Homo sapiens: one gene and its partners. The protein of the gene in region 1 interacts with the protein of each later gene in a pairwise test. Each region holds a gene or a part of one and is shown in the gene's direction. Other genes may lie near its edges.

Region 1 (2,910 bases):
CCCAGGATACCTTATGCATTCAAAACCTTACTTGTTTCAGGATATCTGATGCTATGTATCAACTGACATTTGATATATACACTAATAGGAAATGTTTCAAAAACAATAGCTAGTTTAATGTCAAAATGGCATGAGTATATCCATTCACCGTGGAAATGGGTTTGTTCTCATATTTGCTTTCCAGTCCATCCAAACTCCTCCCTATATGGTGGCAGAAGTTTTAGTGCAAAGCCATGACTGCAGCCTTTTGTGTGACTTGCATGGAAGATTTGGGGGCCCCATATTTCTTAGATGTGTAGATGTCTTTTACAGAAAATTTTGCTAAAAGAGAATTTTGATTGAATCCTGTTTTCTATTTTTTGTTGTTGTTATTGAGACGGAGTATCACTCTGTCACCCAGGATGGAGTGCAATGGCGTGATCTCCGCTCACTGCAATCACCATCTGCCTCCCGGGTTCAAGCGATTCTCATGCCTCAGCCTCCGGAGTAGCTGGGATTACAGGCGTGCACCACCATGCCCAGCTATTTTTGTTGTTTTGGTAGAGATGGTGTTTCACCACATTGGCCAGGCTGGTCTGGAACTCCTGATCTTGTGATCCGCCCACTTCGGCCTCCCAAAGTGCTGGGATTACAGGCGTGACCCACTGCGGCTGGCCCTGTTTTCTAATTTTGATTATAAAACCTAAACCAAATTGTGGTTTTTAAAAAATTTAGTTGTGGCTGGGCACAGTGGTTCACACCTGTAATCCCAGCAATTTGGGAGGCAGAGGCAGGCGGATCACCTGATGTCAGGGGTTCAAGACCATCCTGGCCAACATTGCGAAACCCCGTCTCTATGAAAAATACAAAAATTAGCTGGTTATGGTAGTGGGCACTTGTAATCCCAGCTACTCGGAAGGCTGGGGCAGGGAGAATTGCTTCAACCTGGGAAGCGGAGATTACAGTGAGCTGAGATCATGCCACTGCACTCCAGCCTGGGGGACAGAGCAAGACTCCATCTCAAAAAACAAACAAACAAACAAACAAAACTTTAGTTGTAGGCCAGGTGTGGTGGCTCATGCCTACAATCCCAGCACTTTGGGAGGCCAGAGCGGGCGGATCACTTGAGGTCAGGAGTTCAAGACCAGTCTGCCCAACATGGTGAAACCCCATCTCTATGAAAAATACAAAAATTAGCCGGGCATGGTGGTGCACACCTGTAATCACAGCTACTTGGGACACTGAGTCAGGAAAATCTCTTGAACCTGGGAGACGGAGGTTGCAGTGAGCCGAAATTGTGCTGCTGAACTCCAGCCTGGGCAACAGAGGTGAGTGAGACTCCATCTGAAAAAATAAAAATAAAAAACCTTCTCAAAAACAAAAAATTTAGTTAAGTATCATAAAGACATCCTGAAGGTAGGGGAATTTTTAAAAATCTGTTTTGGAGAAAGATTACATACTCTGATCATAGTTGTGATGCTACCAGTATAATGTTTTATACCTGAAGCAAGGAAGTCAGTGTGGAGCAAGGTCTAGAGCAGTAAACTGAGACGCTGGAGAGTCTACCATTAATCAGATCTGTGATGGTGGGGAGGCCTTGCTCTCTCTTGCCTCCATTTCTTCATCTCTTCAAATTATTGGCAGTTGGGTTAGGATCCAGCTCATGTGTGCTATTTTAAGACTCCCTTGGCTTGCTTTTTCTCTGGTTCCTCCAGGGATGGAAATTTACCCCTGACCACTCTTGCCTTAGTACCTCCTCCCCCACGCAGTTGTGAGGAACCAGCAGTTTAGTTCCTTAAAAACATAGTTGCCTGTTCTGTCCTTTACCTGACATTTTCTATCTTGTTTCTTTTAAACAGTTTGCTGATGGTCGCCAAAGTTGGAGTTAGTATGTTCAACAGACCCCATTAGCAGAAGTCATGTTCCAGCTTAGACTGATGAAGAATTAAAAATCTGCATCTTCCACTATTTTCAATATATTAAGAGAAATAAGTGCAGCATTTTTGCATCTGACATTTTACCTAAAAAAAAAGACACCAAACTTGGCAGAGAGGTGGAAAATCAGTCATGATTACAAACCTACAGAGGTGGCGAGTATGTAACACAAGAGCTTAATAAGACCCTCATAGAGCTTGATTCTTGTATATTGATGTTGTCTTTTCTTTCTGTATCTGTAGGTAAATCTCAAGGGTAAAATGTTAGGTGTCAGCTTTCAGGGCTCTGAAACCCCATTCCCTGCTCTGAGGAACAGTGTGAAAAAAAGTCTTTTAGGAGATTTACAATATCTGTTCTTTTGCTCATCTTAGACCACAGACTGACTTTGAAATTATGTTAAGTGAAATATCAATGAAAATAAAGTTTACTATAAATAATATTTCCTATGGGGTCTTCATTGCCAGAGCTGTCTAGTTCATAGAATGAGATATTGCTAGCAGCAAGATATAGAAACATGAAAGTATTTTGTTAATATTTAGAAATTACCTATTTTGAATAACTTAAGGACCAAGGAAACTTATTTGATTGTACATTGCATTGAAGCTTGTTTCAAAAATGACCTCTGAGGATTTTTTTTGTTTTTCAAGAGACAAGGTCTTTCTCTGTTGCCTAGGCTGGAGGGCAGTGGTGCAATCATATGTCACTGTAGCCTCAAACTCTTGGGTTCAGTCATCCCACCTCAGCCTCCTGAATAGCTGGTACTACTGGTGCATACCACCACACCCAGCTAATGTACTTTTTTTTTTTTTGGAGATGCAGTCTTGCTCTGTTGCCCAGGCTGGTCTCAAACTCCTGGTCTCAAGTGATCCTCTCGCTTTGGCCTCCCAAAATGTACTGGAGTAATAAGCATGACCTACTGTACCTGGCCACTGAGGTTTTCTTCTTTTTTTTTTTTTTTTGAAACGGAGTTTCGCTCTTGTTGCCCAGGCAACCTCT
Region 2 (3,631 bases), on another chromosome or scaffold:
GGATTACAGGCATGCACCATCATGCCTGGCTAATTTTGTATTTTTAGTAGAGACGGGGTTTGTCCATGTTAGGTCAGGCTGGTCTCAAACTCCCGACCTCAGGTGATGCACCTGCCTTGGCCTCCTAAAGTGCTGGGATTACAGGCATGAGCCACTGCGCCCAGCCTACATTAGATATCTTGATTATGCTTAGCTTGCATGTGAATTTTGAAACAGAAAATCAACTTCATGGGCATCATCTGTACCTCTGTCCTTACAGGATACTCAAGGCTGCATTTACATTTAAAACATCTTATTGAAAATTATGGGGTGAAAGGTTTGTCATCTTTTAGGCATAAGTAATAGTTGCAATGAATCTCTCTTTTTTTTGAGGTGGAGTCTCACTGTGTCACCCAGTTTGAAGTGCAATGTTGTGATCTTGGCTCACTGCAACCTCTGCCTCCCAGGTTCAAGCAATTCTCCTGGTTCAGCCTCCTGACAAGCGCCACCCCCACCCCCCACTCCCCCCCCACCCCCCCGCCCTACCACGCCTGCCCGGCTAATTTTTGTATTTTTAGTAGAGACGGGGTTTCACCGTGGTGGCCAGGCTGGTCTCGACTCCCGACCTCAGGTGATCTGCCCGCCTCAGCCTCCCAAAGTGCTGGGATTACAGGCGTGAGACACTGCACCCAGCCTGCAGTGAGTCTCTTTACTTGTATTTTCTAATGAATCCTTTGAAGCCAGCAAAGTCTGGCTCATCATATGCACAGGTACAGAAAGGTGAAAAAAGCAGAAAGGGTGCTCAGGCTACACTGGTAGAAGTATGCAGCCAGGATTTAAACCTAGGTGTAATTACAAGGTTTAGGCTCTCCCCACTCTGAATACTAACTCTCTGGGTTGATATTTTTGAGAATATAGGAGGCCCTAGGACTCTGATATCTTACAATAGTTTTGTGAGGGCGTAAGGGCAACCATAAAAATAAACCCAATTTAGATTTTTTAGTGTCAATGGTAGAAACGTGAGATCTAGACAAAGAGAGTTTCACTAGCAGCCCTTAATCTAAATACAGCCCCATCCCCCAACTCTTCTCCTTCTTTCTGTCCCAAATTTTTGGGTTTTGTCCTAATAGCACGCTTGTGATTTGTTTGTGTGTTTATTTTAATTAAATGCTCTAACAAGGGCAGAACAAAAGTAAAGGGCACTTATTACTTAAGGGTGACTTATTTTAAGTCTGTTCAGGGGCTTCTCTGCCCCTCAGAGTCTTACCTGTCTTTTTGTACCTTCTTCAGGCAGACAGTGCTGTGTTGCATCCTGTAGGACAGAAAGATTTATGTCTCAGAAATAAACCAGCCAACGAACAATGTTGACCCACATTTTAATCCCTTTGCTGCTTATCATTCAGTTAGCTAGAAAGCACAGCTGATAGCTTCATCCTTCATCCTCTTCTTCGTGTGTGACTAACAGGTGTGACTTTAACTTGAAGAAAGAAAGAAGATAGAAATGGCATTCCTAGGAATCCAGAGTCCAATGACGAATTATTCAGTAGCTTAGGGTGAGTTCCTGAGCCAATGTGGAATGGAATTTTTTAAATCAAGCTGTGAGAACCACTATTCATTCTTCTAAAGGAAAAAAATGGTAGTGGATGTGATATTTAACATAAAATATAGTCAGTGTTTTTAAATAAAATGTGTATATATATATATGGTTGAACATATGCAATTGCCCTTTCTGTAGGTGAATAAACAGTTGGATGTTGGCAGTTTGCATATGGTTCATCCTGATTCAAATACAATACCGTTGACATCTAACAGTTGACCAATGAGCCTATGCTCTTCATTTCCCTATAAGCACATGGGGTGGTGCCCAGGCATGATGAACAGTGGCTTCTAGTAGTCTTCTTCCTTCTCCAACTGCTGGGTTATTGGCTTAACAACAATTTATTGTATTTATTGCAAACATGTTAGTGCCAGTTATATTTGTTATTGTGATAGATAATTTAGATATGCGTGAACTTATGAAACGTAAGTGCAAAAAAAGAATATTGTTATTGTGAAAGGAATGTTGAATTCTTTGGAAAGGTTCCATAAAAGTGAGTCACTAAGGGGTCAGGAAAACTAAAAAAATCAGAAAGATGGCTGGGTGCAGTGGCTCACGCCTGTAATCCCACCACTTTGAGAAGCCTAAGTGGGAGGATCACTTGAGGACAGGAGTTGAAGACGAGCCTGGGCAACATAGTGAGACATCCATCTCTACAAAAAATTTAAAAAATAACTGGGTGTGGTGGCATGCGTCTGTAGTCCTAGCTACTCCAGAGGCTGAAGTGGGAAGATCCCTTAAGTCCAGGAGGTCGAGGCTGTAGTGAGCTGTGATTGCACCACTGTACTTCAGCCTCGATGACAGAGTGAGACCCTGTCTAAAAAAAAAATTCAAAAATAAAAACAGAAATTGTAAAAACTTGAAAAATATCCTGAGCTTGCCTTAAAAGTGTGTGTAGTTGTTTTATTTTGTTTTGCTTTGTTTTTAATTCACTTAGAAAGTTAAAACTGGAAATTGTAGATTAAGTTCTAGGTATGGTTTATAGCAGAAAAATATTGGTGAGGAGCTCTTCCTCAAGTACAGTCTTGGGACTACTCTGTCTTTTTTTTTTTTTTTTTTCAAGATGGGATCTCACTGTGTCACCCAGGCTGGAGTGCAGTGGCTTGCTCTCAGCTCGCTGCAACCTCCACCTCCCGGGCTCAATTGATCCTCCCACTTCAGTCTCCCGTGTAACTGGGACTACGGGTGTGTGCCACCACGCCCGGCTAATTTTTGTATTTTGGTAGAGACAGGGTTTTTCTGTGTTGCCCAAGCTCGTCTTGAACTCCTGAGCTCAAGTGATCTGCCCGCCTTGGCCTCCCAAAGTGCTGGAATTACAGGTGTGAGCCACTGTGCCCAGCCCTTGGGACTACTTTGGAAAATTGGAGAATTAATGCCTATTTATATATTTTTTTAAAAAGTAAGTGTTTATAGTATCTAAATAAATTTTTCATTCTTTGCTATAAATAAATTTTTAAAAATCAACTAACCAAAACTAGTCAGAATTCCTGCTCCTGTTAGTCTGACTGTAATAGTTTACGCTATAGTGTAGTAAGTAGTCAGAACCTTCACTTAGCATTCCATACTAATGGTATATAATCAACTCATACTTCTTATTTTATATCATTTTTTGAGAGACAGGATCTCACCATGTTGCCCAAGCTGATCTCAAATTTCTGGCATCAAACATTCCTCCCATCTCAGCCTCCCAAGTAGCTGGGATTACAGGTGTAAGCTACTCTGCCTGGCTCATGCTTCTTATTTTAAATTGGGCTTTCATTAATAACATCTATATAACATTTAAGTTTATTTTAATAATGTGAACCGGTCGGGCGCAGTGGCTCACGCCTGTAATCCCAGCACTTTGGGAGGCCGAGGCGGGCGGATCACAAGGTCAGGAGATGGAGACCATCCTGGCTAACACGGTGAAACCCCGTCTCTACTAAAAATACGAAAACAAAATTAGCCAGGTGTGGTGGCGGGCACCTGTAATCCCAGCTACTTGGGAGGCTGAGGCAGGAGAATGGTGTGAACCTGGGAGGCAGAGCTTGCAGTTAGCCGAGATCATGCCACTGC
Region 3 (3,500 bases), on another chromosome or scaffold:
AGTGGCCCCACAGATGCCCTTAGCTGCAGTCCCAGCATGCCTGTATATGGCAAAGCCAGGGACATGCATGCCAGGGCTTCCGTACAGCCCCTTGCTTAACTCTTGGGCTTTGTGAGTCACTCAGACCTAGGCTTAAATCCCAAGATGGCCATTTACTGCTCTGTGATATTGGACAAGTTATTCAGTCTCCCTGAGCAAGTTCCCCTCCCTCTAAAGTGGGAAGATGATACCACCTCCCTTGGAGGGCAACTGTGAAGAGCCAATGAACGAACACTTAACACAGCACCCGGCTCCTCGTGAATACTGTGTAATATTATGGTATTTCTTGGCTTCTGCAGGCCACATGCCATTGGCTTTCTATCTAAGCTGCTTGCTCTCTACAGGGCCTAATGGAGTGCCCAGGGCCTGGGAAGGCATTGGTGAGCTTCACTGGGACTAGATTCTCCAAAGCCTGGAGTATGAAGGGTGCATGGGCTGCGTCCAGCTACCTGTGAGCCCCTGTAGGCCCTCACAGTCTGAAATGCCCATGGAGGTGCCTACAGGTTCTCTTCTTAAAGTTGTCAGGAGATGGGGACATTGCAACTTGAAGGCAAGCCTGGCCCTGGGTTTGCTTATCTTGGTGGATCTTTCTTACATCTGATCTTTTTACATTCGGTCCATTCACTTTGGCTGGCCATCACCAAAGACAAAGACAGTGGCCACCATCTTTCTCATCAGTAATCCAATAATGAGGTTGCTCTGCTACTTACCAAGCCAAGCAAGCCCATTCCTTTAGCCTTTCTGCGTAGGATCTTATTTCCCATGGGGACCTGGGGTCAAACCCTGCCTCTGCTGTTCACTCATCATGGGAACACAAACACACACTTCCCCTTTGTCTGTGCAATGGACAGGTTGGGTGACGTGGTCTCAGTGAGGCTGACCACCCTCCTCTGAAGGTTAATTCCATGATGGTGTTTCCCTAGCTTCAGTCATTTGCTTATCACCTTTGTGATCTCTGCAGTGTCTGCCTTTCATAATATTTACTTATTTTTTTCTTTAAATCTACTCATTCTTTTATTTGAGTATGTAGATCTTTAAAAGGAAACTTTTTATCGCTGTCATTAGTGGAAAGCCAGTATCACTTGTCATAAATAGAACAAAACCATAAAAGAACGTAACAGGAAAACCATATAAGGGTATTGAATTCTAGTTGGAAACTTTAGCCTGGGAAGGCTCGGAGTCTGAAAACTGCTGCTTTCCCTTGCAAAAAATTAAAATAAAATAAAATTTAAAAAGAAAAGGAGATTAGCAAATGTTTTAGAGACATATTAGCATCAAACTGAGACTTTCTCTTTGATGTAATCAGGACTGAAATAATTGTAAAGGGAATAACCTCTTCTATATATGATTCAATGTTATTTAATGTAAAACCAAAAGTAAAACTATGTGGTAGACGTGGCCAGGCAAGCTGGGCTTTCATTGGTCATGACATTTGTCCGTCTTCAAGAAGGAGGTGGGGCCTCCAGTCAGTCCCCAGCTACCTCTATTCTCTAGAGAGTAGTCAGATGGCACCAGACCTCCAGAGGCTGACTACCTGGGTTCAGATCCTGACACCATCACTTATTAGTTGTGAGGCTGTGGGCAAGATACTAATCTCTCTGTGCTTCCGTTTTCTCATCTGTAAAATGGAGATGATACTAGTACCTACCTCATAGGGTGGAAGGATTACATAAACTAATCTATGTAAAAGTGTTTAGAATGAGGCCGAGCACAGTGGCTCATGCCTGTAATCCCAGCACTTTGGGAGGCTGAGGTGGGAGGATCTCTTGAAGCCAGGAGTTTCAAGCCAGGGGACCAGCCTGGACAACATAACGAGACCCCATCACTATGAAAAATTTAAAAATTAGCTGGGCATAGTGGCATGTGTCTGTAGTCCTAGTTGGGAGGCAGGGGTGGGAGGATAACTTGAGCCCATGAGTTCGAGGTTACAGTGGGCTATGATCTCATTGTCACTGCATTCCAGCCTGAGTGAAGAGCAAGACCCTAGCTCACTAAAGAAAACCAACCAAACGGCCAGGCACAGTGGCTCACTCCTGTAATCCCAGCACTTGGGGAGGACGAGGCGGGTGGATCACATGAGGTCAGGAGTTCAAGACCAGCCTGGCCAACGTGGTGAAACCCCGTCTCTACTAAAAATACAAAAATTAGCCAGGCGTGGTGGCGGGTGCCTGTAGTCCCAGCTACTCGGGAGGCTGAGGCAGGAGAGTTGCTTCAACCTGGGAGGCGGAGGTTGCAGTGAGCTGAGATTGCACCACTGAACTCCAGCCTGGGCAACAGAGCGAGACTCCATCTCAAACAACAACAACAACAACAACAGCAACAAAGCCAACCAAACAAACAAGCACTTAGAATGATGCCTGGCACAGAGTAGTAGGGGGCAAAAAGACTTGAGCTGGACCCTGAGGACGTCTTCACAGCATAGAAGCGTGAGGGTGGCTGGCTGGAGCCGGGAGCCTGAGCTGCACACAGTCCTCCTCCAAAAGGGCCTGGGGAGTCTGGGAGGGGTTCATCCACAGAAGCATCCACGGGCCGGGACCTCTGGCCAGCTGCCTAGGCCCTCCCTGGGGAGGCATGCTAGCCTCCAGCTCCAGCCCCGGATGCACGGAGGCTTTCCCAAGGTGCTGGAAGTGCCGCTTCCTTCAATAGAGCCTGGCTTCCCCTTCCCAGCCCCCTTGGTCTGATGTGAATGGACACTTCCTGCGGGGGCAGGTATCAATAAACACATCTGAGATGCCCTTTGTCCTCACTGGCCAGAAAGCCCCAGGGCAGACTTGCTGGCTTCAGGCCCTGAGCCTATGCCTTGTGACGCTTCCTTTCTTAGCCTTGGCAGCCCCAGTCCTGATTGATCCATGCCTCTGTTTCCCTCTGCATCTTGATAAAGACAGAACATAGTCTTTTCCTACAGCCCCAGCCCCAGCCTGTGGACCATCCTGGGGGATGGGGCCTGGCGGGGAGCTGGAACCAGGTCCCATTCTCTTTGGGATGTCCTGTGAGACCAAGGACGGGACCTTTTGCATCTAGTGCAGGGCCAGCCACAGCAGGCAATTAATAACTGTTTACTTGACAACCTCTAGCAGCTGGTCAGAGTTCAGCTGTTTGGGTGGGGCTTCCTAGGCCCGACTAACCAAGCTTGGGTCCCACCTCCAAAGGCTAGGGCGTTGCCTTGGCGACTGTGGGCTAAGCTCACGCCCTGTCATGAAAAATACACAGGCCTGTCCACACCCACACACACCCATCCCGTGCACACTCACAGGGGTCACCCGGGGCCTGCTGGGTGGAGAGAGGTGAAGGTCACAAAAACTGGCATTCTGAGAAGATGCCAACAAGAGCTCCTTTCCCTTGTACTGGGACAGAAACATCTGAGGGTGCCACAGCTAGAAATCTCAGGCACAGGTCCAGGCCCAAGTTCTGAGCAGATGCCCCTGATGGAACTCTGCATCCCCACAGCCTCCCTGCCTGGG
Region 4 (3,374 bases), on another chromosome or scaffold:
TATAAGCAGTGGTGCACTGGTAAATGTTTAACAACTGGTTCTCCAAAACTCCTGTGTGTACATATGCTTACTAAAAATTTTACTGATATAAAGGTTGCACGTCATCTCAGCACCTCCAGAGGCTGAAGCAGGAGAACTGCTTGAGGCCAGGAGTTCAAGATCAGCCTGGAGAACATAGCAAAACCCTGTCTTTTTAAAAAAGAAAATTAGCTGGCATGGTTGTTCGCACCTGCGGTCTCAGCTACTCAGGAGGCTGAGGCAACAGAATCACTTGAGCCCAGGAGTTCGAGGCTGCCAGTGAGGCATAATCATGCCACTACACTCCAGCCTGGGCGGCACAGTGAGTCCCTGACTCTAAAAATTTAATAAATAAATAAATAAAAATAAATAAATATATATCACACCATTTAAAATAATAAAATATACAATACTCCTTATGGCCAATTTCATATAGACAACTGATTCTCACAAAACGCTCTCCTTCATTTTTGCCAGACCCTTGCACCTTAGCCAACCATGGCTGCAATTGATGAACAAGTATAGTTCCAGCGTGAATGTTATTTTCCTCTAAGTTAAGGAGTGAGATGAAAATGAAGCAGAAGATAGATGTATGTTGGAACTTAACTTGGTTGTCAGTGATGTGAGTGACTTCTTTGCTGGAATGGATAATAGTTCTAAAATACTGGAAGAATATTTCCTCATTTTGCAGGGTTAGTCACAATGTAGTGGCTACAGGGATGATACTGAAATGTAATATGTAATCTGCATTAGTAACATGTTCTCCATCATTTTCTTAAGCCTAGACAATCAACAAAGCCATACATCAAGCCCTGATGTTTAGTGTCTGCTGATTTTCGTGGTATAAATACTTCCACCAAAGCTGATTTTAAGCTATCCACCTCATGTCATTGAACATGGAGTTGGGAGGAGATGTGCAGTAGTGCACCCTTAACATAGAATTTCCGCCGGGCGTGGTGGCTCACGCCTGTAATCTCAGCACTTTGGGTGGCCAAGGAGGGTGGATCTCCTGAGGTCAGGAGTTCGAGACCAGCCTGGCCAACATGGCAAAACCCTGTCTCTACTAAAAATACAAAAAAATTAGCTGTGCATGGTGGCACGTGCCTATAATCCCAGCTGCTGGGGGGCTGAGGCAGGAGGATCACTTGAACCTGGGAGACAGACATTGCAGTGAGCCGAGATCGTGCCACTGCACTCTAGCCTGGGCAACAGAGCGAGACTCCATCTCAAAAACAAAAAAAAACAAAACAAAAAAACAGCATAGAGTTTCCAGCATCCAAATACAACGGACATAAAAAACCAGAAGAGCACATAGCATAAACAAATGTAGTAAGATAATTAGGAAGTGATGGGTTTTGAGTATTACCTCTATTTTTAGTAACTTAATTTATTGTAAGTTGGTATAATTTAATTTTTAATAATGGCTATGTTTAACCATCTCTCAAAATTCCTGAAAGTTTATCAGCTCTTCTGAGCAGGTACAAGCCAACTTCCTCACACCACTACGTAAAGGAAAGATCCTTCTTAGTTCCTGCTCCCCAAATCACATTCATATACCTGCTTGAATCTGTAAGACTTCAATTTTCAAAGGGAAAAAAGAGTTCTTCCCTGGAAAAGTTTAGAGATCTTTTCCTTTGACCTTATGTTTAGCATCCACAAAACTTCAAAAGTGATATGGTGATATGTCAAGCATCTATCTAAGCTCTCTGGTCTGCAGGAGTTGGGATATGGTACTAGAAAATGCAGTCAGCTGCCAACACTTGCAGGTGACTGGAGAAAAGCAATGGCTTGACAACTGGCCACTAAGAGTGAGCTCACACGTGCACAGGCTTCTTAAGTAATAGGAATTCATAGTAACCAACAATATTACTAACTTGATATGTTTCATTGGTTGTTAGCAAGCAAAGAGACTTCCTGTAAGCGGCAAAGCAAAGACAGTGCCTGGGATCCCTCACAAACAATGAAGAAACCAAAGCAGAACCAACTTACCCCTGTAACCAACTCAGAAGTGGCTTTGGTCAATGCCTATCCTGAACAAAGACGAGCCAGGCGCCAGTCTCAGTTCAATGAGGTGAACCAGAACCAACATGACAGTGATACTACGGAGTATGGCAGTGAAGAGTCTAACTCAGAAGCCTCCTCGTGGAAGGAGAGTGAAAGTGAACACCACCCATCACCAGACAGTATTAAGAGGAGAAAAATGGCTCAGAGGCAAAGGAATCTGGGAAGTTACCAAATGAGCGAAAGGCACTGCCTCCACTGCAAAGCCTTGAGAACCAACGAATGGTTGGCGCACCATTCCCGACAGAAGCCTTCAGTAACACCGCCAATGAAAAGAGACAGTCAAGAGGAAAGTTCCATATCTGACATTAACAAGAAATTTAGTAAATTTTGAATTTTATCACGTTCTTCCTTCACTTGAAGCCAAATGAAAGAGATGAATAAAACATGAAAAATCACCAGAGCTATAGGTGAGGAGACTTTTACAACAAAGTCTCTCTACCAACAAACAAAAACATACTTGGAACCCAAGAGGTAAAATCTCACACAATTCTTCGTTCAAAAAAAAAAAGGCCATCACGTGTTTATGGCACCATTGGAACACCAAAGATCTATATCTGCTATGATTTTTTTATTTGAAATAGCACAAGACAGATATTTTGTGCCTTGAGTGTATATATTTTGTGCCTTGAGTGTATGTATTTTGTTTATGTCTGTAATATGAATAAGAAAGCTCTTTGAAAATGTATTATTTATGTTGAGAAACCACTTAAATGTATTCAGATGTTTTGCTTATCTGACTGACTGAATGAACTAGGTGAAGTTGGTTGGAATAGAATTGCCCCATCCTCTCTAGGTTTGACCCTACAAGAACTGTATTGCCACACATGTCAGCTAGGGGCTGGTGTGGAAGAGGAGCTCAAGAGGCTGGAATAAGATCTGATTCCTGGAGTAGGGAGGAGAGGCAGCATGACCCAGAAGGCAGTTGGCAGTGGGCTACCCACGGTTGTCATCCACAAAGTGCATGGCAAATGTTAAAGGAAAAATTATTCTGACACTTGTTAAAATGGCCAGGAGGACTTCATTCAAGACTCTATTGCAATAGAGAGTAGAAATTGAGCTCCACTCTGAATACAACAAGGACAAGTGGGGATTTATAGCCAGGAGCAGGAGGAGGACATCACAGGATGGGAAATTACCAAAGAGAGACATCAAACATAGGAGTATTCCTGATAAAGTGACCTAACAGGATTCATGCTAAAGGCAGGCCAAGGACTTACACATCAAAAGTGGAGAATGAGGCCAGGCGTGGTGGCTCATGCCTGTAATCCCGGCACTTTGGGAGGCCAAGGCAG
Region 5 (3,631 bases), on another chromosome or scaffold:
AATACATTCTGTACCCCAGTACCCATTGTATTTGTTCACCTCTCCTCACTTAGATCCTTTCCTAGTGAGCATATTATTCCAGACATTGGAATCAGGGATTAGATTTGTGTGATAAGGACAAGGCAGGAGTCAGAGATCAAGTGTTAAGGCACCAGTCTAGGTCAGCAGTCAAGATCTTATAAAAGTTTAACGCTTCATCCCCCTTAGTGGAGTACTGAACCCCACTTATTTGGGGTTTGGTATGGCCCCATTCATGAATTTTGGTTCAGTTTGGTACGGCTCCATTCATGAATCAATGAATGTGGAAATAAACTCTTGAAATTTTATTGTTCCTAAGTTTATCTTTTAAAAATATGTTACCAAATTGCTCCTCAGAAAGGATTAAAAAAGAGAAAACACAGTTTCTACTCCTACCAACAGTACGTTGGAGTGCCTTTTTCACTGAGAAAATCAAGAGTCATCGGTTTTTCATCTCCTTCACATTATAGGGGAACCTGCTTTCTGCTTTGAGTTTCTGGGGTTTTTTTTGTTTTGTTTTGTTTTTATTACTAGGAAGATTAACTTTTTTTCCTTGCGCATTTTTGTTTCTCTCAGCAGTTGTCCATTGATTACTGTTGTGTTTTTTCTATTGGGGCAGGTGTGTTTTCTTAATGAATTTTTAAAAAGAAATTTTAAGTGTTTGTCGTAGCTACTGTTTCTCTGTAGTACAATTGACACTTGAACAACGCAGGGTTTAGGAGCACTGAACCCTGCCTTGCCAGCACAGACAGAAATCCACATATAACTTTTGACTTCCAAAAAACTTAATTACTAATAGCCTCCTGTTGACTAGAAGCCTTACTGATAACATGAATAGTCAGTTACCACATATTTTTTATGTTATATGTATAATTTATTGTATTCTTAAAGTTAGAGGAAAGGAAATGTTAAGAAAGTCATAAGGGGCGGAGCACGGTGGCTCACGCCTGTAGTCCCAGCACTTTGGGAGGCTGAGGTGGGCAGATCACTTGAGGTCAAAAGTTCAAGACCAGCCTGGCCAACATGGCGAAACCCTGTCTCTACTAAAAATACAGAAATTAGCTGGGTGTGGTGGTGGGCACCTGCAATACCAGCTACTTGGGAGGCTGAGGCAGGAGAATCACTTGAACCTGGGAGACAGAGGTTGCAGTGAGCTGAGATCATGCCACTGCACTCCAGCCTGGGCGACAGAGCAAGACTCTTGTCTAAAAAAAAAAAAATTAAAAAGAAGAAAAAAATACATTGACTATTTATTAAGTGGAAGTGGATCATCATAAAAGTCTCCATCCTCATCTTCTTCCCATTGAGTAGGCTGAGGAGAAAGAGGAAGAGGGGTTGGTCTTACTGTCTCAGGAAGGTTTCAGAGGCAGAAGAGGTGGAAATGGAGGCTGGGGAGGCAGAGGAGGCAGGAGAGGAAGGCACACGTGTAACTTTCATTAAAAACAAATTTGTGTGTAAGTAGAACTGTGCAGTTCAAACGTGTGTTGTTCAAGGATCAGTTGTATAATATTGCAAGTATTTTCTTTCCATTTGTTATATTTTCAACTTTTTGTGCTTTTTAAATATAAACATTTAAAATGTTTGAATTCAGGCTGGGTGTGGTGGCTCACACCTGTAATCCTAGCACTTGGGAAGATCGCTTGAGCCTAGGAGTTTGAGATCAGCCTGGGCAATATAGTGAGACCCCATCCGTACAAAAATGTTTTAAAAAATTAGCCAGAAGTAGTGGCATGTGCCTGTAGTCCGAGCTACTTGGGGGGCTGAGGCAGGAGGATCGCTTGAGCCCAAGAGGTGGAGGCTGCAGTAAGCCCAGGTTGCCCCACTGCAGCCTAGCCTGGGTGACAAAGTGAAACCCTGTCTCAATCAATCAATCAATCAATCAATCAATAAGACTAAATAAAAATTTTAAATTCAAATATATTACTGTTTCAGTGTAATGTTTAGAAAGTTCATCAGCATTACAAGATTACATTCACATATACTTTTTTCTTGTAGTTTTATATTTTCATTTTTAACATTAAAAACTGTTAATCTATTGCAATCTATTTAGCTTATAGGGAGCAGCCTTCATCCTGAGTACAGGACACAAGGTCTGTGAAGCTATGATGCTCAGTAAATCTCTGGGCCTTATAGCAGATTCTAACCCTTACACATTCTCATCTACAGATTTTGAGCTCCTGTTATTTATAACATAGCATCTAGGTGATGAAATAGTGCATGTAAAATATAATGATCGAATATGCAAGAGTTGAAATATGATTTTTAAGATTTTTAATGAGAATCAGGAAAGAGGATTTTAGAAGGGGTGTAATTTTACCTGGGTCTTGAAGAAATTCATGCAACAAATTTTGCATACAAATTTTGGCAACAAAATTCTTTGTTTATATGAAAATATACATGTTATATAACTTCTTATATATTATGCATACATAACTAACAAAAATGTTTTTACTGTTATTTAACCAAAAAGAAAGATATAATAAGTACCATATGCCTGCCAGGTTTTATAAATATTAATCTTTAGTCATCATATTTCAATTTTATTTTAATAAGTAGGTAACAAATCCTTGAAACTTCCTGCCCCCTATTCATCTCCCACCATTCTTCCACAGAGTTAACCTTTAATTGGAACTGATTTCTTGTCCATCTGTGTTTTTTCAGCATCACAAATACAACCTATCAAAGCTTTACTTCAAATTTATTAGTAAATTGTTTGCTGTGGCCAAGTCTAAAATAAGATACAGTACACAATGTTTCTAGTGGTCTGTTTTGTCCTCTTTGCTATGAACTTTTTCACTGAGGGAATACTTAGCTCCCTAATACCATCATTCTTGGCCTAAATAAATATAACTGTAAATCTAGACCATTTATAGAAATTGCTGAGTTCTTAATTTTCCAATTAAGCTGTATGTACAGATTAGCAAGGATTATCTATTGTGCTGTATGCTGAACTGGAATATTTTACATCTCTTTTTATCCCCCTAGTTCTTCTTGATTATGCATAGTAAGAATTTTAGAATTTTAATATAGAAAAGGACCTAGAGACATTCTTATTTTACCCCCTTATATTTTAGAGATGAAAAAATGGACACTAAGAATTTGACTTGATCAGGGCTTAAAAGCAGGCTATAAACCCAAGCTTGGCCTTCTCACTATTTATTCATACTCAGTAAATTTAGATAATGATTTTGCTGTAATATGGGGTTCTAGATCTGAATTGAAATGTCAGAAAATAGTGTACTGCAATAAAATCACACTGTTTTTTCGATACATTTTTTTCTTTCTATCAATTTGTCGTATAGTGATTTTTTAAAATTCTCACATATGTATCATAAAACCTTGTTCTAAAGTCTTTTTTTGTATATGTATTTGTTACTTTTAGAATTTATGTTTATGTTAAAATTTAGAATTTGCTTCATGTAGTTTTAAATACTGTAGATAATAGAGTTCCGATGTGTCAAACTTTGATTTTAGTGTTTTTAGCGAAATGTTTTCTTTGACTTGCATAATATTTTTGAAGTTAGAAACAGCTTTTATGGGCCAGGCATGATGGCTCGCACCTGTAATCCCTGCACTTTGGGTGGCCGTGGTGGATGGATCAGTTGAGGTCAGG
Region 6 (2,985 bases), on another chromosome or scaffold:
TGGCATGGGAGGCCGAGGTGGGCAGATCACTTGAGGTCAGGAGTTTGAGACCAGCCTGGCCAACATGGTGAAACCTCATCTCTACTAAAAATACAAAAATTAGCCAGGCATGGTGGTGGGCACCTGTAATCCCAGCTACTTAGAAGGCTGAGGCAGGAGAATCACTTGAATCCAAGAAACGGAGGTTGCAGTAAGCTGAGATCGTGCCACCGCACTCCAGCCTGGATGACAAAGCGAGACTCCGTCTCAAAAAAAAAAATCATGGCCAGGCGCGGTGGCTCACACCTGTAAGCACTTCGGGAGGCCAAGGTGGGTGGATCACTTGAGGTCAGGAGTTCAAGATCAGCCTGGCCAACATGGTGAAACCCTGGCTGTACTAAAAATACAAGAATTAGCCAGGTGTGGTGGCATTCCTCTGTAGTTCCAGTTACTTGGGAGACTGAGGCAGGAGATCATGCCACTGCACTCCATCCTGGGCAACATAGCGAGCTCCATCTCAAAAAAAAAAAAAATCAGTGCAGCCTTGCCATGGTACCAAAATAACTATTTCTACATAACGATTCATAGCAAATTTACTTTCTTTTAGGTTTATCGTCTTGAACTTGGTTTTAAACATAACGAAATTCAACATATGATCACCAGAATCCCAAAGATGTTAACTGCAAATAAAATGAAACTTACCGAGACGTTTGATTTTGTGCACAATGTGATGAGCATTCCCCACCACATCATTGTCAAGTTCCCACAGGTAATGCCACTCACAGCTCTCTCTGTAAGCGCTGCCATTGCGCTTCATTTGGAGCTGCTCTCCAGCTGCATAGTTCTGTACGCTGGGAAGAGTTTACAATTTGCAGGGCGCAAATGTCCATCTCCTGAGGAGAAATCAGTGATTAGTCTCTTTCCCTGGAGTTTCTACCTAGTCCTAGTTCTGATTGTTGGAATCAGGCCAACAAATCTAATGTAGTCTCTCTTCTCTCTCATGTTTTTCTCTACTTTACTTTGGAATAGATCACTTCCCTTAAAGGTCCTTTCACTGCTACGTGTACTTTTTAGTCACAGTTTATTTAAATTCATGAATCAATAAGCCATATTGTAATGATCCCCATCCCAATATAAAAGTGATCCAGTTTGCCATCATGCCAAAGCCGTAATTATATTTTCTAAGCTAATCAAGCTTCCATATTCTTTACCTAGTGAGTGATATTATCTGCTGTTCACAAGAATATTAATCTTGAATATTGACTCTTTAAAAGCAGAAACTTTGTCTGATTTATACACTGCCAAATCCTCAGTGCCTAGAACTACACCTGGCACTAAGTAGGCACACAATTAATATTTGTTGAACAAATGAATGATTGGATTTTATCAAAGTAATCCTTTTTTCCTATTTCCTATGCAAATAGCCACTCAGTATTTATTGGATAAATGACAAACTGAATTTTTATTTAAGTGATCCCTCTACTCCATTTGCTAGAACACATGTTCCTGTTTTTGAAAAAAGATGGGTAAAAGAAATATGACCTTAATACAACTCTCAGAACTAGACTGCATTAGGTCCAGTTCCTTCACATACAGCTATATTTATTTGCCTATTATACTTCACTAGGAACGGGCCTCTAATATAGGATTTTCCTATTTTACCAAACGTAAATATACCCATTATAGAAGTGTTAGAAGCCTACAGTTTTGTGAATTTGGCTCATGGAGTAATTGTGAAATAATCTTCAACGAAAAAGAAATGACAATTTGTTTTTCCCTGGGTTGGTGGGTAATTCATTTTTCCAGTATATCACTGAGCATCCATCAGTGCTACACATTGGGCACTGAGGATACAAAAGTCAAGCAGACATGATCTCTGTTCTTGTGGAACTTATAATCGAGTGTGGAAGACAGGTTTAAAAATAGAATTGCTTTATATGATGGTAGAGTCCTAACCAGAGCTCCTACAGTGATTTAGAAGCGGTAGGAGAATTATAGAAGTAATAACAGCAATTGAGTACTTACTGTGTGCCAGCTCTATCTTTATTGCTTTATTTGTATTAACACAGTTAATTCTCACAACAACCATATGAGGTAGATGCTATTATTACCCCTATTTTACACATAAAGAACTTAAGCTTAAAGAGATTTAAGTAACCTGTCCAAGGTTACCCAAGTAACAAGGTTGGGGCAGAACCACGATTAGAACTCCAACAGTCCAGTTTAAAAACCCAAGCCCTTTACTAGGATCTGCTAGAAGTACATTTGAATTGTCTGTAGAAGAGGGAGTGGTGTTTAAAAGATGGAGAGGAGCTTTCCAAATAGAAGAAATTATAAGCTGACCAGATGCATCAAAATCACTTAAAAACACAGATTTTAGGCACCCCAAACCCTTGCCTCAGAGAAGCTCTGTTGTAGAATTGTGGCTTCCAAATTGGGATTCTCAGATTCCTAGAGTCTAGGTGGAATTATTGGGGAATAAAAACAGAAAAATAAAAAGCTTATTAATGAAAAAATACATTAACGGACAGTAAGGCTGTGAATGGGCTGATATAGACTTTACATTTTTGGCTGGTGTTTAAATCTCAGTGGCATGGAACTAATTTTCTCATGTAGATAATATTCCTGGTTGGCAGATCTGACTTACGATTAATTAAAAATGGGGAAAGAAGTATAACTTAATAACTATGATCAATTTAGTCATTTCAAAGAAGAGATCTTGGAAGGTAAAGGATAACAAAAGCAGTTTTAGGGTAATGAATGTGAAGAAATCACTAGGCTAAGGAAAGAGGTTATATTCAGGATCCCCCGAAACCTTCACTCTCCCCTTCCTCTGTGACTTTCTGTGAAGGCAAAGTTGAAGTCCACCTTAGGATTAGAGGGAACCAATAATTCTCAGGCTAGGGGCACTTTTTTTAACTCCGAAGAATTTAATATGTCATTAATAGGATGAAATTTTTGTGCCAATGGCAAAGTAGCCCCTGGTGGCCAACAACTCTCCCCCCA
Region 7 (2,810 bases), on another chromosome or scaffold:
TCCAGGATATATTAAATGGGGGAAAAATAAACATGCAGAGACAGTCTATATAGTATGCTGCCATACTTCAGAAAAGGGAAAAATAACTTTTTGCTCATATATGCACTTTTTAAAAAATCACTCAATGTATTATCACACTGGCTCTTCTTCTTCCTTCTTCCTCCTTTCTTTCTTCTTCTTCTTCCTTCTTTCTTCTTTTCTTCTTTCTCCAAGAAAAGCACACTGGTCTTTAAGAAAAAAATAAAAGAAAAAAATCTGCTGGGCATGGTGGCTCACACCTGTAATCTCAGCACTTTGGGAGGCCAAGGCACTTTGGTAGGCTGTGGTGGGAGGACTGCCTGAGCTCAGGAGTTGGGGGCTGCCACTGCACTCCAGCCTGGCTGACAGAGACCCCATCTATAATTTAAAAAAAAAAAAAAATAGGCCAGGCGCGGTGGCTCACGCCTGTAATCCCAGCACTTTGGGAGGCCAAGGCAGGCGGATCATCAGGTCAGGAGATTGAGACCATCTCGGGTGAAACCCCATCTCTACTAAAAATACAAAAAAATAGCCAGGCATGGTGGCGGGCGCCCGTAGTCTCAGCTACTCAGGAGGCTGAGGCAGGAGAATTGCTTGAACCCGGGAGGCGGAGGTTGCAGTGAGCTGAGATCGCACCACTGCACTCCAGCCTGGGTGACAGAGAGAGACTCTGTCTCAAAAATAAAAAAATAATAATAATTTAAAAAATCACTCAGTGCACAAGAAACCATAATATTGATGCCTGGGGTGGGGGTGGGGGAGAATAGGGTGGGAATCGGTAAAGGGAGGAAGATATTTTACTATACTCATTGAATTTGCTCAAACATTTTAAAGTTTGTACAGCCAGGTGTGGTGGCCCGCATCTGTAATCCCAGCTACTCAGGAGTCTGAGGTGAGAGAATCACTCAAGGCCAGAAGTTTGAGCCCAGACTGGCAACATAGCAAGACCATGTCTCTAAAAAAATAAAAATAAATCGAAAAGTAAATAAAAGAGGGAAAGGAATAACATACTCAACTTCATAAAGATGTGGGGAAGTCAAATCAATCACTTATAGTAATTAGCGCTGTGCCTAATACATGTTAAGTGCATAAACTTTGGCTGTATTTGGAAGTACCAGCCATACCCACCAACTGCATCTGCCTCCCCTATCTACTCCCCCCACCGTCAGCCTATTGCCAATCAGCTGACGCGCTTCCCTCGAGAGTAGCCTGACCCTTTTCTTGCCCCCATAGGCTGATCTACTGGCTGACCTTTGCCGTGGGCCGCTCCTTCCGAGGCTTCGGCTACGGCCTGACGTTTCTGCCACTGCTGTCGATGCTGATGTGGAACCTCTACTACATGTTCGTGGTGGAGCCGGAGCGCATGCTCACTGCCACCGAGAGCCGCCTGGACTACCCGGACCACGCCCGCTCGGCCTCCGACTACAGGCCCCGCCCCTGGGGCTGAGCCTCTCCGCCCTCGCCCTCGGAGTAGGGGGTAGCGGCTTGGGTCTGACACATCTTTGAACCTTGTGGCCAGGCCTGGACTTCGCCCCCAGGCCTAGGACCGCGGTGGGTGGAACCCTGCTACTGCCCCAACAGGGACTCCAATCAATCGGAGTTCTCCCCTTGCCGGAGCTGCCCTTCACCTTTGGGGCCCGAGACAGTCATAAGGGATGGACTTAGTTTTCTTGCAGGGAAAAAGGTGGACAGCCGTGTTTCTTAAGGATGCTGAGGGCATGGGGCCAGGACCAGGGGAGAGGCACAGCTCCTTCCTGAGCAGCCTCTCACCACTGCCACAAGGCTCCCTAATGCTGGTCTCTGCTCCACTCCCCGGCTTCCCGTGAGGCAGGAGGCAGAGCCACAGCCAAGGCCCTGACCACTTCTGTGCCAGTTGTCTAAGCAGAGCGCCTCAGGGACGCTGGAAATGCCTTAAGGATAGAGGCTGGGCATCACATCAAATGGGACTGTGGTGTTTGGTGAAAACCTTCCTGAGGATCTGGATTCAGGACCCTCCATGACTGGCCTATTTACTGTTTACAGCTGGCCAGTGCAGAGCTGCTGCTCTTTTACCTTTTTAGGCCCCTGTAACTTCCCACCTTTAAACTGCCCAGAAGGCATGCCTCTCCCACAGGAAGAGGGGAGCAGACAGGGAAATCTGCCTACCAAGAGGGGTGTGTGTGTCTTTGTGCCCACACGTGGTGGCTGGGGAGTGCCTGGATGGTGCGGTGGTTGATGTTAACCTAGTGTGTGTGTGTGTGTGTGTGTGTGTGTGTGTGTGTGTGTGTGTGTAACAATAAATTACTACCAGTCTTTGCTGGCTCTTTTTTCCTGTTTGTCCCCCAGTCTCGAGTGTCCCTTCCCTGTTTAATTCAGATGACGATAGAAACCTCCCAGCTCTACCTGGTGGAGCAGGGCTGGCAGGTTCCTTGGTTCCACAGCAAGGAAATGGAGCCTCAAACAGAAACTTGCCTTCCAAGCCCATCTCTTAGCCCTTCCATTCCCTGGAACCAGCCCAAGACCAGCCCAACAACACTCACACATCAAGAGACTGGAGCCCTGTGAAAAAAAATAAATCTATTTTCTTGCCTTCCAGGGCAGCCAACCAGTCAGAATGCCTCTCATTTAGGCCTGCAAGTCCCATCCAAGGGAAATGTGTGGAGATGCAAGAAGGCAACACCAAGGGGACCTTATCAATAGCCCTGTCCCCTGCCCGCCTCCAAAGTCCCCCAACAAAGTATGAAGGAAGCCCCACCTGGGGGTCTCCAGGAAGTCGAGGCTGGCCTCTGAGGTTCCACAGAAAAGCAAGATGG

What was found.
Region 2: the proteins of TMEM14C (region 1) and ELOVL7 interact in binary tests that used the Homo sapiens proteins (3 or more experiments, as listed by UniProt).
Region 3: the proteins of TMEM14C (region 1) and VSIR interact in binary tests that used the Homo sapiens proteins (3 or more experiments, as listed by UniProt).
Region 4: the proteins of TMEM14C (region 1) and SSMEM1 interact in binary tests that used the Homo sapiens proteins (3 or more experiments, as listed by UniProt).
Region 5: the proteins of TMEM14C (region 1) and ARL13B interact in binary tests that used the Homo sapiens proteins (3 or more experiments, as listed by UniProt).
Region 6: the proteins of TMEM14C (region 1) and MTERF3 interact in binary tests that used the Homo sapiens proteins (3 or more experiments, as listed by UniProt).
Region 7: the proteins of TMEM14C (region 1) and TMEM79 interact in binary tests that used the Homo sapiens proteins (3 or more experiments, as listed by UniProt).

The regions. Positions count from the first base shown.
Region 1 is NC_000006.12:10,728,777-10,731,686, forward strand, and holds the end of TMEM14C (transmembrane protein 14C), read left to right. Parts: intron 1-1,838; coding exon 1,839-1,890; 3' UTR 1,891-2,351; downstream 2,352-2,910. UniProt on the Homo sapiens protein: Required for normal heme biosynthesis.
Region 2 is NC_000005.10:60,834,195-60,837,825, reverse strand, and holds part of ELOVL7 (very long chain fatty acid elongase 7), read left to right. Parts: intron 1-3,631. UniProt on the Homo sapiens protein: Catalyzes the first and rate-limiting reaction of the four reactions that constitute the long-chain fatty acids elongation cycle.
Region 3 is NC_000010.11:71,767,021-71,770,520, reverse strand, and holds part of VSIR (V-type immunoglobulin domain-containing suppressor of T-cell activation precursor), read left to right. Parts: intron 1-3,500.
Region 4 is NC_000007.14:130,214,058-130,217,431, forward strand, and holds the end of SSMEM1 (serine-rich single-pass membrane protein 1), read left to right. Parts: intron 1-1,916; coding exon 1,917-2,413; 3' UTR 2,414-2,787; downstream 2,788-3,374.
Region 5 is NC_000003.12:93,983,131-93,986,761, forward strand, and holds part of ARL13B (ADP-ribosylation factor-like protein 13B), read left to right. Parts: intron 1-3,631. UniProt on the Homo sapiens protein: Cilium-specific protein required to control the microtubule-based, ciliary axoneme structure. May act by maintaining the association between IFT subcomplexes A and B. Binds GTP but is not able to hydrolyze fit; the GTPase activity remains unclear.
Region 6 is NC_000008.11:96,241,682-96,244,666, reverse strand, and holds part of MTERF3 (transcription termination factor 3, mitochondrial isoform 1 precursor), read left to right. Parts: intron 1-586; coding exon 587-748; intron 749-2,985.
Region 7 is NC_000001.11:156,290,134-156,292,943, forward strand, and holds the end of TMEM79 (transmembrane protein 79), read left to right. Parts: intron 1-1,251; coding exon 1,252-1,465; 3' UTR 1,466-2,310; downstream 2,311-2,810.